Linked DNA regions of Homo sapiens: region 2 is linked to region 1. The links come from fine-mapping of genetic effects on gene expression. A gene starts in region 1. The other region holds a variant in brackets. All regions are shown on one strand. Distances are between the middles of the regions.

Region 1 (8,325 bases):
AAATAAGAGAGTCAACTCAGTTCCTAGTAACAAAAGGCAGAAAGAAAGAAGTGGTTACAAGTATGGGCCCAGGCCAGGCGCGGTGGCTCATGCCTGTAATCCCAGCACTTTGGGAGGTCGAGGCTGGCATATCACTTGAGGTCAGGAGTTTGAGACCAGCCTGGACAACATGGTGAAACCCCGTCTCTATGAAAAATACAAAAATTAGCCAGGCTTGGTGCTGTGCGCCTGTAATCCCAGCTACTCAGGAGGCTGAGGCAGGAGAATCACCTGAACCTGGGAGATGGAGCTTGCAGTGAGCTGAGATTGCGCCACCATACTCCAACCTGGGTGACAGAGTGAGACTCTGTCTCGAAAAAAAAAAGAAAAGAAAGAAAGAAAAAGAACAGGCCAGGGGCGGTGGCTCATGCCTGCACTCCCAGCACTTTGGGAGGCCGAGGCGGGCAGATCAGTTCAAGACCAGCCTGGCGACACCCCATCTCTACTAAAAATACAAAAAACATGAGCTGGGTGTGGTGCTACACGTCTAATCCCAGCTACTGAGGAGACTGAGGTAGGAGAATCGCTTGAACCCAGGAGACGGAGCTTGCAGTGAGCTGAGATCGCGCCACTGCACTCCAGCCTGAGTGACAGTGAGACTCTGTCTCAGAAAAAAAAAAAAATAATAATAATAAATAAAATAAGAAGTATGGGCCCAGAGGTTAGAAAGCCTAGGTTCAGGTCAGACATAGCTCACTGCAGCCCCACCCTCCTGTGCTCAAGCGATCCTCCCATTTCAGCCTCCCGAGTAGCTGGAACTACAGGTGTGAGCCACTATGCCTGGCTAATTTTATTTTTTGGTAGAGACAGGGTCTTGCTATGTGCCCAGGCTGGTCTTGAACTCCTGGACTCAAGCAATCCTCTCGCCTCGACCTCCCAAAGCACTGGGATTACAGCAATGAGCCACCATGCCCAGCCTAAAGTATTTTAGAGTCTGGTTATATTAGAAGGTTGCGATTGGAAAAGTCTTACAAGTGATGGCAGATTGAACAGATTAAAAACTAGGCCCAGTAGGTCAGGAGCGGTGGCTCACGCCTGTAATCCCAGCACTTTGGGAGGCCAAGGTGGGTGGATCCCCTCAGGTCAGGAGTTCGAGACCAGCCTGACGTGGTGAACCCTATCTCTGCCGAAAATATAAAAATTAGCTGGGCGTGACAGCGTGCCCCTGTAATCCCAGCTACTTGGGAGGCTGAGGCAGGAGAATCACTTGAACGTGGGAGGCAGAGGTTGCAGTGAGCCAAGATCGCGCCATTGCACTCCAGCCTGAGCGACAGAGCAAGACTCCATCTCAAAACAACAACAACAACAACAAACAAAAAACTAGGCCCAGCAAGGGGAGAGACTTGCTGGGGTCCTGCAGCAGTGCAGTGGGTGAGACTGGCCAGCTTGGGCTGGGCTGGCTTTGAACTCAGGTCCATGTAACGCATTGATGATTGTCCTGACCAGCACCTTTTGTGAAACTAGTGCAGGGGGCCTTTATCATTCTGCATCTGGCAAGCCCTGCCACTCCTTCTTACAAGCATGGTGTTTATGTAATTTTCTTTTTTGTGGAATGGGGTCTTCATGTTGCCCAGGCTGGAGTGCGATGGCACAGTGGAGTGCAAATGCACAATCACTGCAACCTCCAACTCCTGGGCTCAAGTGATCCTCCTACCTCAGCCTCTCAATTAACTAGCACTACTGGTGCACACCACCATACCTGTCTAATTTTTTGTATTTTTTTGTAGAGATGGAGTCTCCCTATGTTGCCAGGCTGGTCTAGAACTCCTGGCCTCAAGCAATCCTCCAGCCTTGGCCTCCCAAAGTGTTGGGATTGCAGGCGTAAGCCTCCATGCCCTGCCTTACGTGCATTAATTACAATACACAGAATTACAAAACAAAAAGCAATGATATTGAAATGGCATCAAAATGCTTTAAAAACAAATTTCTGCTATACTAGTATAGATGCTTATTTTCAATGCATGAAATAACAAGACCCTATCATAATTTCTTTTCTTTTCTTTTTTTTTTTTTGAGACAGTCTCTCACTCTGTCCTCAGGCGTGACCTCGGCTCACTGCAATTTCCGCCTCCCGGATTCAAGCGATTCTCCTGCCTCAGCCTCCCCTGGAGCTGGGACTACAGACGCATGCCACCAAGCCCAGCTAATTTTTGTATTTTTAGTAGAGACAGGGTTTCACCATGTTGGCCAGGATGGTCTGGATCTTTTGACCTTGTGATCCGCCCGCCTCGGCCTCCCGAAGTGCTGGGATTACAGCCGTGAGCCACCGCGCCCGGCCGACTCTATCATAATTTCAAAGCAGTAATAAATGTAAGTGACAGCTTAAGATACCACCTTGTAGTTGCTGCACAAACTGGGTTTTTTTGCGTCTCACTCTGTCACCAGGCTGGAGTGGGGTGGTACAATCTCGGCTCAATGCAACCTCTGCCTCCCGGGTTTAAGCCATGCTCATGCCTCAGCCTCCCAAGTAGCTGGGATTACAGGAACGCGCCACTACTCCAGGCCAATTTTTATATTTTCAGTAGGGACGGGGTTTTGCCATCCTGTCCAGGCTGGTCTCGAACTCCTGACCTCACGTGATCCTCTCGCCTCAGACTCCCAAAGTGCTGAGGTTACAGGTGTGAGCCACCATGCCTGGCCCTGCACAAACTGTTATCTGGAACTATCATTTACACTCACCCTCACAGTTTCAGGCACTGCTAAGGCTGCTCCAGCAATCAGGAAAGGAAATGCTATACTTCACATAGAGAAAAATAGGGGTGCATTTTGTTCCTACACAAGCTCATTACCCCACCCTGGTTAAAAAAAACCCTGAATTAGGCTGTATAGTGGCTCATGCCTGCAATTCCAGCACTTTGGGAGGCCCAGGCAGGAGGATCGCTTTGGGCTTGGGGCCAGGAGTTCGAGACCAGCCTGGGCAACATAGCAAGACCCGCCACCCGCCCCCCCAACCCCGCCGTCTCTACAAAAATTAAAAATAAAATTTTAAAAATTAGCCAAGTGTGGTGGTGCAGCGTCTGTAGTTCCAGCTACTCGGGAGGCTGAGGTGGGAGGATCGCTTGAGTCTGAGAAGTTGACTGCAGTGAGCTATGATCGTACCCCTGTACTCCAGCCTGGGCCACAGAGCGAGAAAAAACCCTGAATTAGAGACACGCTGCGGCCGTCCTTCCTCGGAGAGACCCGCCCCTCCTCAGAGGCCCACCCGGACCCTCAGGCCAACGCCGACCCCTCTCCACACGGACTTCTGCAGCCTCAGTTTCCCTCCTCAGACGCCCCCGGCTCCAATCCCGGCTCGGGCACTTCCTTCCCCTCTGGCGTGTCTTGGCCCGGGTCCCGGGGCTCCTGCGAGGATCACACAGGAACTCACTTGAAGTGTCCGGCGCAGTGCACTCCGACGGGGAGCCCTGCCCGGTCCCCGCGGCGAACCAGTCTCTTCCTCGGGTCCCCCTCTCCCCAAGCGCGCAGGCGCAATCCGCGTCGCCGACTCACGCGGCTGGTTTCAGGTTTCTGGCGAGGCCGGTGTTCGGCTGGCGGCTAGCTGGGACTAGCGGAACGGCGGAGTCTCGATTGGCAGTGCCTGGACAGGCGCAAGGGCCGGCGCGGGCTCCGGGCGCTCCCGGCATCCCTCGGGCGGCGGCGGCGGCGGCGGCGAGGCGAAGCGAAGGAGGAGTGTGTGCGGCGGGGCCGGCGGCGGGTAAAGGCGAGAAGGCTGCAGGAGACCGAGGGGGAGCCGGGCCGGTGGGGCCGCCGCCGCCGCCATGCAGGAAATCATCGCCAGCGTGGACCACATCAAGTTTGACTTGGAGATCGCGGTGGAGCAGCAGCTGGGGGCGCAGCCGCTGCCCTTCCCCGGCATGGACAGTGAGCGCGGGGCCCGGGCGGGAGGGCAAGAGCGACTCGAACCCGGGACCCGCTCCTCTGTGATCCCGGGACTCCCTCGCCTCGGTCCTGAGACCTCCCCCGGCTTCCTCTGGATCCTGGGACCCCTCCCCTTTGGTCGCAGGACTCCTCCCTCTAGGTCTTGAGAGTCCCTCCCACCTCCTCCGGGTCCTGGGATCCTCCCCTTTAGTTACCGAACTCCCTCATCTGTGGTCCCGAGACTCTTCCCACTCCATCCTGAGACCTCCTCTTCTGGATCCCGGGACGCTCCCCTTGGTTTCAGGACTCCTGACTCCCAGGCCCCCATTTCCACCGTCTGGGGACTCCTTTTACCCTCACTCGGACTCAGGAGTTCACTGCCTCGGATCTTTGGCCCTCTGCGGCTGTTCAAAGGTAATCTGTAGGAGGGTAGACCTTGTCTGTTCGCTTAATTCTTGAATAAGGGTGGGTTATCCTGGATTGGAACTCTCCCTCAACACTCTCCCAACTGCAGGAGAGTACTAGGATATCACACCCGCTACGTTGAGCGTCTCTTCTTGATTTCATCAAAACTAGGCGGTTGGAGGAGATGTGCTGAGGGAAGGACCACCTTTCTGTAGGAGACCCCAGCTAGACTCTCAAACTCCCTTCTAGGACTCACTCTCCTGGGAGCTCATCCCTAGTTTTTGGCCCGTCCCTACTTTTTTCTGGACCCCAACTCTGAGTTATTCATCACACCCAGCAGCTGGTGTGGACCCTTGGCCTGAACTCCCTTCACTGCTCCCCTTCATATGGTGGCTCCTGGCTTCCCACCTCCTACTCGGTGGGATATCTTGTACTTTAAAAGAAACCAGTAGTTTTCTTTGTGTCTTCTTTCCTATCTGGACATACTTGAAATCTAATGCTATAACCTTAAAGTTTGGGGGCTTGTGGAAGTCACTGAGTTCAATCCACAGATGGGGAAACTGAGACCCAAGCGGGGGAAGGGACTTGCTGACAATCACTCAGTGCATAGCAGAGGCGGGCAAGCTCTCCAGTGTTGTGTGCTGTCGCCCACAACTACCAGCGGGGTCTCCCACCGCTCCCAGCAGCCTCACTCCCCTCAGGCGGTCACACCTTCTCATGCACATGTGACCTCTGAGTCTGTCCCTTTATGTGTTTTTGTTGTTGTTGTTTGTTTGCTTTTGAGACAGGGGCCCCTCTGTCGCCCAGGCTGGGTGCAGTGACGCAATCATGGCTCAATGCAGCCTCGACTTCCCAGGCTCCAGCAATCCTCCCACCTCAGTCTCCCAAGTAGCTGGGACCACAGGCATGCACCAACACGCCTGGCAAATTTTTTTGTGTGTATTTCTTGGTAGAGACACTATTTCATCATGTTTCCCAGGGTTGGTCTTGAACTCCTGGGCTCAAGTGATCCTTTTACCTCGGCCTTCGGAAGTACTGGGATTATAGGCATGAGCCACTGCACCTGGCATATATATATATATATATATTTTTTTTTTTTTTTTTTTCCTGCCTGTCCCACAACTTTACATGGTGATAGTTCTGTACAAGATAGTTTCATTGGAAATTAATTAAGTCTTCAAGAAGACAAGATAGTGCTTATAAGGAGACATCATCAGACCACCCTATTTGACACAGGCACAAACACCATCACCACTGTACACTCCCTAAAAAGCAGCTGCTCAAATTCACACACACACACCCCCTCTTACCTACCCCTCGACTCTTGTGATCATCCCTGCACATGTGGCCTTTTCCTGTCTTTTTTTTTTTTTTTTTTTTGAGACAGAGTTTTGCTTTTGTCACCCAGGCTGGAGTGCAATGGTGCGATCTCGGCTCACTGCAACCTCCACCTCCCAGGTTCAAGCAGTTCTGCTGCCTTGGCCTCCTGAGTAGCTGGGATTATAGGCGCCCACCACCACGCCCAACTAATTTTTGTATTTTTAGTAGAGATGAGGTTTCACCATGTTGGCCAGGCTGGTCTTGAACTCCTGACCTTAAATGATCCACCTGCCTCGGCCTCCCAAAGTGCTGGGATTACGGGCATAAGCCACTGTGCCCAGCCGGCCTTTTCCTGTCTTGATGGCACTAGCTTGAGACCATGGAACCACCCACGCAGGGCAGCTCTTTTCCTCCCACCCTTCTGCCATCTGACACATCCACAAGCCTGTGAGGGGAGGTACAGTGGCGAGGGGCCCACATACCTGTTCCTGAGGCCCGGGACACACCTAGCCATGGGTGTTGCTCCAGCCAGGGCTTCAGAGTCGGTAGGCACCCTCCACACTCGCTGCTTGTCCATATCCTGTTCAGTTAAAGCCTAGTGAGGCCACAGCCCTTCCTCACCCATCCCTCCTCTTCATCCCCATCTGAGTTTTGGGAAGAACTGTCACTTTGCCCATAAGGCATACTCATCCTATCCACATGAGACTCAGTTCCCAGAACTGTGTATTTCTGAGCAGAAGCAACTCTAACCTCTAAAGAGAGAGACCAGAAGTACTTTCAGAATTTTTTTTTTCTTTTTTTTTGAGACAGAGTCTTGCTCTGTTACCCAGGCTGGAGCACAGTGACGCGATCTTGGCTCACTGCAACCTCTGCCTCTGGGTTCAAGTGATTCTCCTGCCTCAGCCTCCCAGGTAGCTGGGATTACAGGCACGTGCCACCATGTCTGACTAATTTTTGCATTTTTAGTAGAGATGGGGTTTCACCATATTGGCCAGGCTGGTCTTGAACTCCTGATGTCAAGTGATCCACCCGCCTCAGCCTCCCAAAGTGCTAGGATTACAGACGTGAGTCACCGCACCTGGCCACTTTCAGACTTTTTGAGATGCAAATGGAGTGACCTCCCTGTGACAGCCATAAGTTCTATAACCTCAGCTGTGTCCTAGCAAAATCTGCTTGCTTCCAAGAAGCCAAGGAATCTTTTGTGATTTAGCAAGGGGAGGCATGTTAAGTGGGCTTCAGAGATGCTGTCATTGGTTTTTCAGCAATTCTAAAATGGTTACTTGTAGAGGAAACTGTTTCTGATGCCAAGGTCAGTTTAGTCTGGCAGCTGGGGCTGGTGAATTCCTGGACTCATCAGAACAGCTGGTCCCTGGAGCCCACTGAATTCCAGCACACTCCGACTGTGGGAATGAAAGGCTGTGCTTTTTTTTTCTTTTCTTTTCTTTTTTATTAACAAGCAACATAATCGGCCGGGCGTTGTGGCTCACACCTGTAATCCCAGCACTTTGGGAGGCCGAGGCGGGCGGATCACGAGGTCAGGAGATCGAGACCATCCTGGCTAACACGGTGAAACCCCGTCTCTACTAAAAATACAAAAAATTAGCTGGGCAAGGTGGCGGGTGCCTGTAGTCCCAGCTACTCGGGAGGCTGAGGCAGGAGAATGGTGTGAACCCCGGTGGGGCAGAGCCTGCAGTGAGCCGAGATCACACCACTGCACTCCAGCCTGGGCAACAGCGAGACTCCGTCTCAAAAAAAAAAAAAAAAAAAACAAAAAACAAGCAATATAATCAAAAACAAAAACACAACAACCTTAAAGCTGAAACAGCAATAAGTCAAACTGCCGCGGCAGTTCACAGTTTTACCTGGGGTACCTGCTCCCTCATTGCAAGGCAAGACTGCATTTAGTATATATGTGACCAAGAAGAATGAGAGAAGTGGAAAACACTGGAGAACAGAAAGTATCAAGAACCTTTCATCAGGCAATGCCAAAGCGCTCTGCTCTTTTCCTCTTCTTTGCCTCTGTATCCTCTGTGGTTCCAGTTCCAGCTGAACTTGTGACAATCCCAAATCGCTCCTTCCTCTTTTTCAGTTTCTTATCATCTTCAGACTTTCTGGAAATTGAAGAGACATTCAAACCAAATCTTTGAGCTCTTTCCTTCGGCTTATCCAAGTTAACCATAGGTGTGTTCAGATGACAGACTTTTGTTGGAACTGAAGAAATCCCAAACCTAGCTGCCTGAGCAGCTTTCTTACTCTCCAAGCTCACAGGTACACTGAATTGTTCGGCCCTCTTCTGCATTCTCTCAGCCTGTGGTATTTCAGATGTAATTTTCACCACTTTCTTCTCTGCTGCCACATCAACAGTTTTTTTCAGGGGGTTCTTCCTATTTGACAAGGGGTTTTTTTCTTCTTCTGTTTCATCTCCTAGTACATCTTCATTTGCCTCCTCTTCAGCATGTTCTTCAAGATATGCCTGGAGTCTGTGGATAAGATCTTGCTTTATTCCCTTGGTCTCCAAACCACAAGAAGACATTCTTGCTTTAGTTTAGCAAGCTTCAGCTTATGGAGCTCCACCATCTCAGTTACCATCTTGTTACCCCTCCGGGTGTGCTCTTTTAATAATTGTATGTGGGGTGGGGTGCGGTGGCTCAATCCTAGCACTTTGGGAAGCCAAGGCAGGCGGATCACGAGGTCAGGAGTTCG
Region 2 (8,325 bases), 25 kb before region 1:
AGAGCTGAACAAGAATCCAAGCCTGCAACTGCAGAGACGAGAGATCTTTCTGCTGTCTATACTCTTGGAAAGCACATCCTAAGGTACTTTGATTTTACAGTCATCTTTCCCTTTTTATTTTATGTTTTGTTTTGTTTTGTTTGTTATTGAGACATGGTCTCACTCCGTCACTTAGGCTGGAGTGCAGTAGTGTGAACATGGCTAACTGAAGACTTTCAACCTCCTGGGCTCAAGTGATCCTCTTGCCTCAGCCTTCCGTGTAGCTCAGACCACAGGCACCCACCACCATGCTCAGTTAATTTTTTTGATTTTTTTTTTTTTTTGGTAGAGATAGGGTTTCACCTCATTGCTCAGACTGGTCTCAAATTCCTGGGCTCAAGTGATCCTCCCATCTCAGCCTCCCAAGGTGCTGGCCAAGACCAGAATTACAGGCATGAGCCACCGTGCCTGACCTTCCATCTTTGCCTTTTTAAATACTCACCCCCATGGCTCCCCGAGTCACAGCCCTCCTTATACTCTATTGTAATTGCTTTTTCTCTTGTCTGTCTCTTTGCTAAAATGTCACCTTCTAAGGGGCAAAGGCTTAACTTTTGTTCTGTGTTCCCAACATCCAGTATAGGGTTAAGCTTTTAGTTGAAGTTAGCTAATGACAACAGCAAATGTCTCTTAGGCACACATTATACACCAGGCATGATAGATACAATTCTAATGAAGTCTTTGCAATGACCACATAAGGTAGCTTCCATTATCCCCATTTTACAGATGAGGAAACAGAGGCTTAGGAAGGTTAAGTACCTTTCTGAAGATCACAGCGGGTAAGTAGCAGAGCCAGGATTTGAACACAGTCTGGGTGCTGAGCCCTGTCCCATAGCTGTGACCCTATGCTGACTCAAGGAAGTCAGCCTGTACCGAAATAATGGCTGGCAAAGGCCTTTGGGGATTTGAGACTCAGAAACCAATTCATTTTTTTCCCCCAGATCTTTGCAGATTATCCTGTGGAAGGAAAATGCCTAAAGTCAAAAGAAGCCGGAAAGCACCCCCAGATGGCTGGGAGTTGATTGAGCCAACACTGGATGAATTAGATCAAAAGATGAGAGAAGGTGAGTAGGGGAGTTCCTGTCTGGGTGGGCTGGGTCCAAGGGTCACAGGCTTAGATGCCCCCAGGGGACAGGCATAAATGCAAATATAAAAAGAGAGTGGTCTACTAACACTGACATGTTGTGTTTGCTTATGAACTTGGGGAAATACTGTAAGTGCCCGAAAATAAGATAACATTAATGAAAAGGTCCTCAGAAAAGGTGTTTTTTTTTGTTTTTGTTTTTGCCAACTCGAATATAAAAGGTTATGAAATATAGATCAAATAGTCTACCTATAGTTATTTACTATTTTGGTTAGATATATATTTAAAATCATACAAAATATATTTACTTGGAAGTGCTATTCCTTTTCAGTATCATCGATTAGTCTTTGCCGCATCTGTTTTCTGTCACTTCCTTGTAAATGGCGTGTGATCCTGCTTTGTGAACCCGTGTCCTATGCTGTCTTTGGAAATTTTATCTGAAGCCACAAGCATCTGTTGGCCTTATATGATCACAGTGTGGCCACTTACCAATTGACTTTTTTATTTTTATTTTTTGAGTTGGAGTCTTGCTCTGTCTTCCAGGCTGCAGTGCAGTGGCGTGATCTCGGCTCACTGCAACCTCTGCCTCCCGTGTTCAAGTGATTTTCCTGCCTCTCAGCCTCTCGAGTAATTTGGATTACAGGCATGCGCCACCATGCCCGGCTAATTTTTGTATTTTTAGTAGAGATGGGTTTCTCCATGTTGGCCAGGCTGGTCTCGAACTCCTGGCCTCAAGTGATCCACCCACCTCGGCCTCCCAAAGTGATGGGATTACAGGTATGAGCCACTACACCCAGCTGAAGTTACTTTTTAAAGTAGCTTTTGAAATGCTTGCTTGTAACTAACCTAATCATGGTTATTATGAGGTCGTACCTCCAGCAGTAATTACTAAATTAAATCAATGTTAAATTACTTTGCCCCTTTTTAAAAAAACTGTTCGTACCAGATAACTTCTATTAAATACTCAGTACTTGTTTTGCAGTTTAGATTTGGATGGGCCTATTGCAGTAATCACGGTCATTTTGGGCTGAGAGATGTCTTCCCGAAACAGCTCTTTATCAAAATAAAGGAAATGGGAGCATGCTGGAATAGAAGAGATTTTGCAAGTCCTTGAAAGTAAATTAACTTCATCTTCTAAAGGGTGACTTTTGAGGGAAGGAGGAACCCTACTTTGTGTTTAGATATTCTTTACCTCCAGACAGAAGTATTCTTTGTTCTGTTTTCTTTTTGTTTTTGTTTTGAGACAAGGTCTCACTTTGTTGCCCAGGCTGGAGTGCAGTGGTTCAATCACAGCTCACTGAAGCCTCCACCTCCCAGGCTCAGGTGTTCCTCCCACCTCAGTCTCCCAGGCAGCTGGGACTACAGGCATCCACTGCCACGCTTGGCTAAGTTTTCTTTTCTTTTTTTTCTTTTTTTTTTTTTTGAGACGGAGTCTCGCTCTGTCACCCAGGCTGGAGTGCAGTGGCGCGATCTCCGCTCACTGCAAGCTCCGCCTCCCAGGTCCACACCATTCTCCTGCCTCAGCCTCTGGAGTAGCTGGGACTACAGGCGCCCGCCACCATGCCCAGCTAATTTTTTTTTTTTTTTTGTATTTTTAGTAGAGACGGGGTTTCACCATGTTAGCCAGGATGGTCTCGATCGCCTGACCTTGTGATCCACCCGCCTCAGGCTCCCAAAGTGCTAGGATTACAAGCATGAGCCACCGCGCCCGACCAACGCTTGGCTAATTTTTTGTAGAGATGGGGGTGTGTTAGTCCATTTTCACGCTACTGATAGACATACCTGAGACTGGGCAATTTACGAAAGAACGAGATCTAATGGACTTACCGTTCCATGTGGTTGGAGAGGCCTCACCATCATGGCAGAGGCCAAGGAGGAGCAAGTCACGTCTTAACATGTGTACCTGCTGAATCTTTACTACCTGCTTTTCTGCTTGGATCACAGCATTCTGTTTGTTGAGCTGAATTGTAATTCCTAGGTAATAGAATGGCTTAAAAGCTGGAGACAGGGAGGGATAGTCTTCTTGACCACTCTTCGCCCTTCTGTTCTTCCCTAAAAACTGAGGAGGTCATAGACAAAGATGAACTTGTGACTGCTGAGAGAGAGAGAACTGCCTTGCGGCAAGTATGAGTGCCACCTGATCCTGCGTGTGTTGAAGGAGCAGCTTCTGCTGTGGCTACTTCCCTCAGAACCTGTAGACTGGTCTAGTTTATTTAGCTTTTCCTCAGCCCTAAAGGACTTTGGCTGGGAGATGAAATTAGAAGTGCCTTCAAGATGATTAGGATGCCCATCTGTGGGCCTAGAATTATCTTGATTAATTATTACGCTGTAGAAATAGATCTGAAAGCATAGGGACCAAGGTTGGTTTTTTGGCTTTTTTTTGTTTGTTTTGTTTTGTTTTTTTTTGAGACAGGGTCATCTGTCATCCAGGCTGGAGTGCAGTGGCACAATGTCAGCTAACTGCAACCTCTGCTTCCCAGGTTCAAGCACTTCTCGTGCCTCAGCCTCCCGAGTAACTGGGATTACAGGCATGTGCCACCATGCCCAGATAATTTTTGTATTTTCAGTAGAGACAGTGTTTTGCCCTGTTGGCCAGGGTGTTCTCGAACTCCTGACCTCAAGTGATCCACCCACCTCGGCCTCCAAAAGTGCTGGGATTACAGGCGTGAGCCACTGTGCCCAGCCGGGACCAACCTTTTAACAGAAGTTACCATTAAATGTCTTTAAAAATCTATGTTTTCTAATTCTGTAATTAAAAAGACTTTTTTTCTTGTCACATGGGTAATGTGCCAACGTTGTGACAAGGTTTGAGAGTGGCATGTCTCACACATGGATGTGAACACCCAAGCACACTCATGAATTACAAAAGGATCCAAAAATAGACATTTTTAATTTAAAACAATTATGTTTAAATTACTTAGCTTATTTTTTATTTTTTT[A/AT]TTTTTTTTTTTGAGACGGAATCTCACACTGTTGCCCACGCTGGAGTGCAGTGGTGCGATCTTGGCTCACTGCAACCTGTACCTCCCGAGTTCAGGCAATTCTCCTGCCTCAGCCTCTTGAGAAGCTGGGATTACAAGCGTGCACTACCACGCCCGGCTAATTTTTTAATTTTTAGTAGTGATGGGGTTTCACCACGTTGGTCAGGCTGATCTCGATCTCCTGACCTCGTGGTCCGCCCACCTTGGCCTCCCAAAATGCCCGGCGGCTTATTCTGTTTTTAAATAACAGCTTTATTGAGATATTAATCATATACTGTAAAAGTGAACCTGTTAAATTATCCAATTAAGGGGTTTTTAGTATATTCACAAAGTTGTACGACCATTGCCACAGTTAGTTTGATGTTTCAAGGTTCATCTGTGTTGTAGAATATATCAGTACTTACTTCATTCCCTTTTTTTTCTTTTTTTGAGACGGGAGTCTTGCTTTGTTGCCTAGGCTGGAGTGCAGTGGTGTGATCTCAGCTCACTGCATCCTCCGCCTCTGGGTTCAAACGATTCTCCCACCTCAGCCTCCCAAGTAGGTGGGATTACAGGCATGCGCCACCATGCCCTGCTAATTCTTTTGTATTTTTAGTAGAGATGGGGTTTCACCATGTTGACCAAGCTGGTCTCAGACTCCTGACCTCAAGTGACCTGCCCACCTCAGCCTCCCAAAGTGCTGGGATTACAGGTGTGAGCCACCGATTCCGGCCAGCCCTGTTTAACTTCTTGAGGAGCCACCTAACTCTTCTGCAGTGGCTCCACCATTTTACATTCCCACCAGGAACGTAGGAGAGTTCCAATTTCTCCACATCCTTCCCAACACTTGTTATTGTGCCATAATTTTGATTATAGTCATCTGTAGGGTCCAGCCCCACAGGGTCGGTGGGTTTCTCCCCGTGTGTGGAGACGAGAGAGCGTAGAAATAAAGACACAAGACAAAGAGATAAAAGACAGCTGAGCCTGGGAATCCCACCAAGACGCGGAGACCGGTAGTGGCCCCAAATGCCAGGCTGCACTGATATTTATTGGATACAAGACAAAGGGGCAGGATAAGCAGTGTGAACCATCTCCAATGATAGGTAAGGCCACATGGGTCACGTGTCCACTGGAAAGCGGGCCCTTGCCTGCCTGGCACCAAGGCAGAGAGAGAGAGACAGCTTATGCCATTATTTCTGCTTATCAGAGACTTTTAGTACTTTCACTAATTTGCTATTGTTATCTAAAAGGCAGAGCCAGGTGTACAGGATGGAACATGAAGGCGGACTAGGAGCGTGACCACCAAAGCACAGCATCACAGGGAGATAGTTAGGCCTCTGGATAACTGCGGGCGGGCCTGACTGATGTCAGGCCCTCCACAAGAGGTGGAGGAGTAGAGTCTTCTCTAAACTCCCCCGGGGAAAGGGAGATTCCCTTTCCCGGTCTGCTAAGTAGCGGGTGTTTTTCCTTGACACTAACGCTACTGCTAGACCAAGGTCCGCTTGGCAACGGGCATCTTCCCAGATGCTGGCGTTACCGCTAGACCAAGGAGCCCTCTGGTGGCCCTGTCCGGGCATAACAGAAGGCTTGCACTCGTTTTCTGGTCAGTTCTCACTATGTCCCCTCAGCTCCCATCTCTGTATAGCCTGGTGTTTCCTAGGTTATGATTGTCGAGTGAGGATTATTATAATATTGGAATAAAGAGTAATTGCTACAAACTAAGGATTAATGATATTCATATATAATCATATCTAAGATCTATATCTAGTATAACTATTCTTATTTTATTTATTTTATTATACTAGAACAGCTCGTGCCCTCGGTTTCTTGCCTCGGCACCTGGGTGGCTTGCCACCCACAGCCATCCTAGTGGGTATAAAGTGGTATTTATTCATTATCAGTAGTTACTTACAAAAAGAAAATCCTGCGCAGACCGACCCTATTCCCCCAAACACACTCTTTGTTTCTCCCCAGCTGAAACAGAACCGCATGAGGGAAAGAGGAAAGTGGAATCTCTGTGGCCCATCTTCAGGATCCACCACCAGAAAACCCGCTACATCTTCGACCTCTTTTACAAGCGGAAAGCCATCAGCAGAGGTAATTAGTCAGTCTCTCTTGGACTTTGAAGCTCGCGTCACTTTTGGAGTTACTGAACTAACCACAATCCTTATTCTCGCAACCTGTGCAAGTCATGGTTTTTCTTACCACGAAAATTAGGGGGAGCCAACGTTGGCTGAGTTTTGTGTGTGTGTTTGTTTTTTGTTTGTTTGTTTTGAGATGGAGTCTCACTCTGTCACCCAGGCTGGAGTGCAGTGGCGCAATCTTGGCTCACTGCAAGCTCCACTTCCTGGGTTCAAGCGATTCTCCTGTCTCAGCTCCCAAGTAGCTGGGATTACAGGCACCTGCCACCACACCTGGCCAATTTTTGTATTTTTAGTAAAGATGGGGTTTCACCATATTGGTCAGGCTGATCTTGAACTCCTGACCTCAGGTGATTCACCCGACTCGGTCTCCCAAAGTGCTGGAATTATAGGCGTGGTCCACCGCTCTTGGCTTTTTTTTTTTTTTTTTTTTTGAAACAGGGTCTTGCTCTGTTCCACAGGCTGGAGTGCAGTGGTGCAATGATGGCTCACTGCAGCCTCAACCTTCTGGGCTCAAGGGATCCTCTCACCTCAACCTCCTGAGTAGCTGTGACTACAGGTGTGCACCACCACACCCAGCTAATTTTTAAATTTTTTGTGGAGATGGGCCCTTGGCCCAGGCTGGTTTCTTAACTCAAATGATCCTCTGGCGTTGGCTTCCAAAAGTGCTGGGATTACAGGTGTGAGGCACCTTGCCTGGCCTAAGTACTTTTTTTTTTTGTTCCTCCTCCAAGGACTGTCCCGTTGCAATACTGAATGCCTTTTTTTTTTTGAGATGGAGTTTCGCTGTCACCCAGGCTGGAGTCCAGTGGCACGACCTCAGGTCACTACAACCTCCGCCTCCTGGGTTCAAGTGATTCTCCTGCCTCAGCCTCCTAAGTAGCTGGGATTACAGCTGCTACCACGCCCGAGTAATTTTTGTATTTTTAGTAGAGACGGGGTTTTACCATGTTGGCCGGGCTGGTCCTGAACTCCTGACCTCAGGTGATCCGCCTGCCTCGGCCTCCCAAAGTGCTGGGATTACAGGTGTGAGCCACTGCACCCGGCCTGAATGCTTTTTTTGATCAAGGGTGGGGAAGGTTTTTAGACCATGGCCTGATGCTCTTTCCCCATCTTTTTGACAGAACTCTATGAATATTGTATTAAAGAAGGCTATGCAGACAAAAACCTGATTGCAAAATGGAAAAAGCAAGGATATGAGAACTTGTGCTGCCTGCGGTGCATTCAGACACGGGACACCAACTTCGGGACGAACTGCATCTGCCGCGTGCCCAAAAGCAAGCTGGAAGTGGTAATGTCTGACACTCAAGCTTGGTGTTGTTTTCAGCTCAAAATTCTGCCTTAGTCGACTGCAAGGGATCTTATGTTATTTGGTTGGGCTGGAATGTCGTTTTGTCCCTGGATGTCCTGCTGGCTCTCCCTCGTGGGAGTGGGTCCCTGTATTCAGGAATCCATGTGAGGCAGCGTGTGGCTGTGTGTTTGTTAGGTCTGGGGTCAATCTCAACTCCACTTTTGGGCAAATTACTGAACCCCTTTCCTCACTTAGGAAATGGTGGTGGGGAGCCCTAATCCCAAGGTGGTGGCAGGGTGACATCAGGGAAGGACAACCAGTGAGTTCCTGTCCCTTTCAGTCCTCACAGTGATACTTTAACATTACCATCACTATCTTTCCCGCCCCCCCAAGACGGAGTCTTGCTTTGTCGCCCAGGCTGGAGTGCAGTGATGCCATCTTGGCTCACTGCAACCTCCACCTCCCGGGTTCAAGCGGTTCTCCTGCCTCATCCTCCTGAGTAGCTGGGACTACAGGCATGCACCACCACGCCTGGCTAATTTTGTATTTTTAGTAGAGACGGGGTTTCTCAATGTTGCTCAGGCTGGTCTCGAACTCCCGACCTCAGGTGATCCACCCGCCTCAGCCTCCCAAAGTGCCGGGATTACAGGCATGAGCTACTGCGCCCAGCCCACTGTGTTTCTTCTTTCAGAACTTTCTGTTCCAAGTACCACTCCTAGGCCAGGCGCCTCAGGAGTGGTGCTGAGGGACAGGAGCTGAGCTCCATCCGGTTCCAAGCCCCTCTGAAAGGCAGCTGTGGCCCGAGGCAGAGTCACA

Alleles and levels. Positions count from the first base shown, and alleles are read on the strand shown. Sizes are in standard deviations (SD) of each study's normalised expression.
For the expression in lymphoblastoid cells of the gene that starts at base 3,513 in region 1, AT is the high allele of the variant in region 2 and A is the other (large effect, 1.1 SD a copy in CAP).

Evidence for each region.
Region 2: its variant is fine-mapped to the expression of PTCD1 in lymphoblastoid cells (CAP, PIP 0.95).

The regions. Positions count from the first base shown.
Region 1 is chr7:99,435,286-99,443,610 of GRCh38, forward strand. PTCD1 (pentatricopeptide repeat domain 1) reads right to left here and starts at 3,513. Exons shown (of 8, transcript NM_015545.4): 1 at 3,407-3,513. The region is part of intron 2 of ATP5MF-PTCD1 (ATP5MF-PTCD1 readthrough); the gene reads right to left. It overlaps CPSF4 (cleavage and polyadenylation specific factor 4), which reads left to right and starts at 3,658. Exons shown (of 8, transcript NM_006693.4): 1 at 3,658-3,900. The coding sequence starts at 3,798. It also overlaps the pseudogene LOC100131859. RefSeq lists silencers at 7-154, 3,653-3,952 and enhancers at 1,281-1,806, 3,103-3,392.
Region 2 is chr7:99,410,087-99,418,411 of GRCh38, forward strand. It overlaps BUD31 (BUD31 spliceosome associated protein), which reads left to right. Exons shown (of 6, transcript NM_003910.4): 2 at 1-83; 3 at 978-1,100; 4 at 6,052-6,174; 5 at 7,343-7,509. The coding sequence starts at 1,007. It overlaps ATP5MF-PTCD1 (ATP5MF-PTCD1 readthrough), which reads right to left. Exons shown (of 9, transcript NM_001198879.2): 9 at 6,653-8,325. PTCD1 (pentatricopeptide repeat domain 1) reads right to left here. Exons shown (of 8, transcript NM_015545.4): 8 at 6,653-8,325. LOC124901707 (a long non-coding RNA gene) reads left to right here and starts at 1,859. Exons shown (of 2, transcript XR_007060451.1): 1 at 1,859-1,897; 2 at 2,103-2,209. It also overlaps LOC124901841. RefSeq lists a silencer at 5,547-5,596. The variant A/AT (reference allele first, on the strand shown) is at 4,060.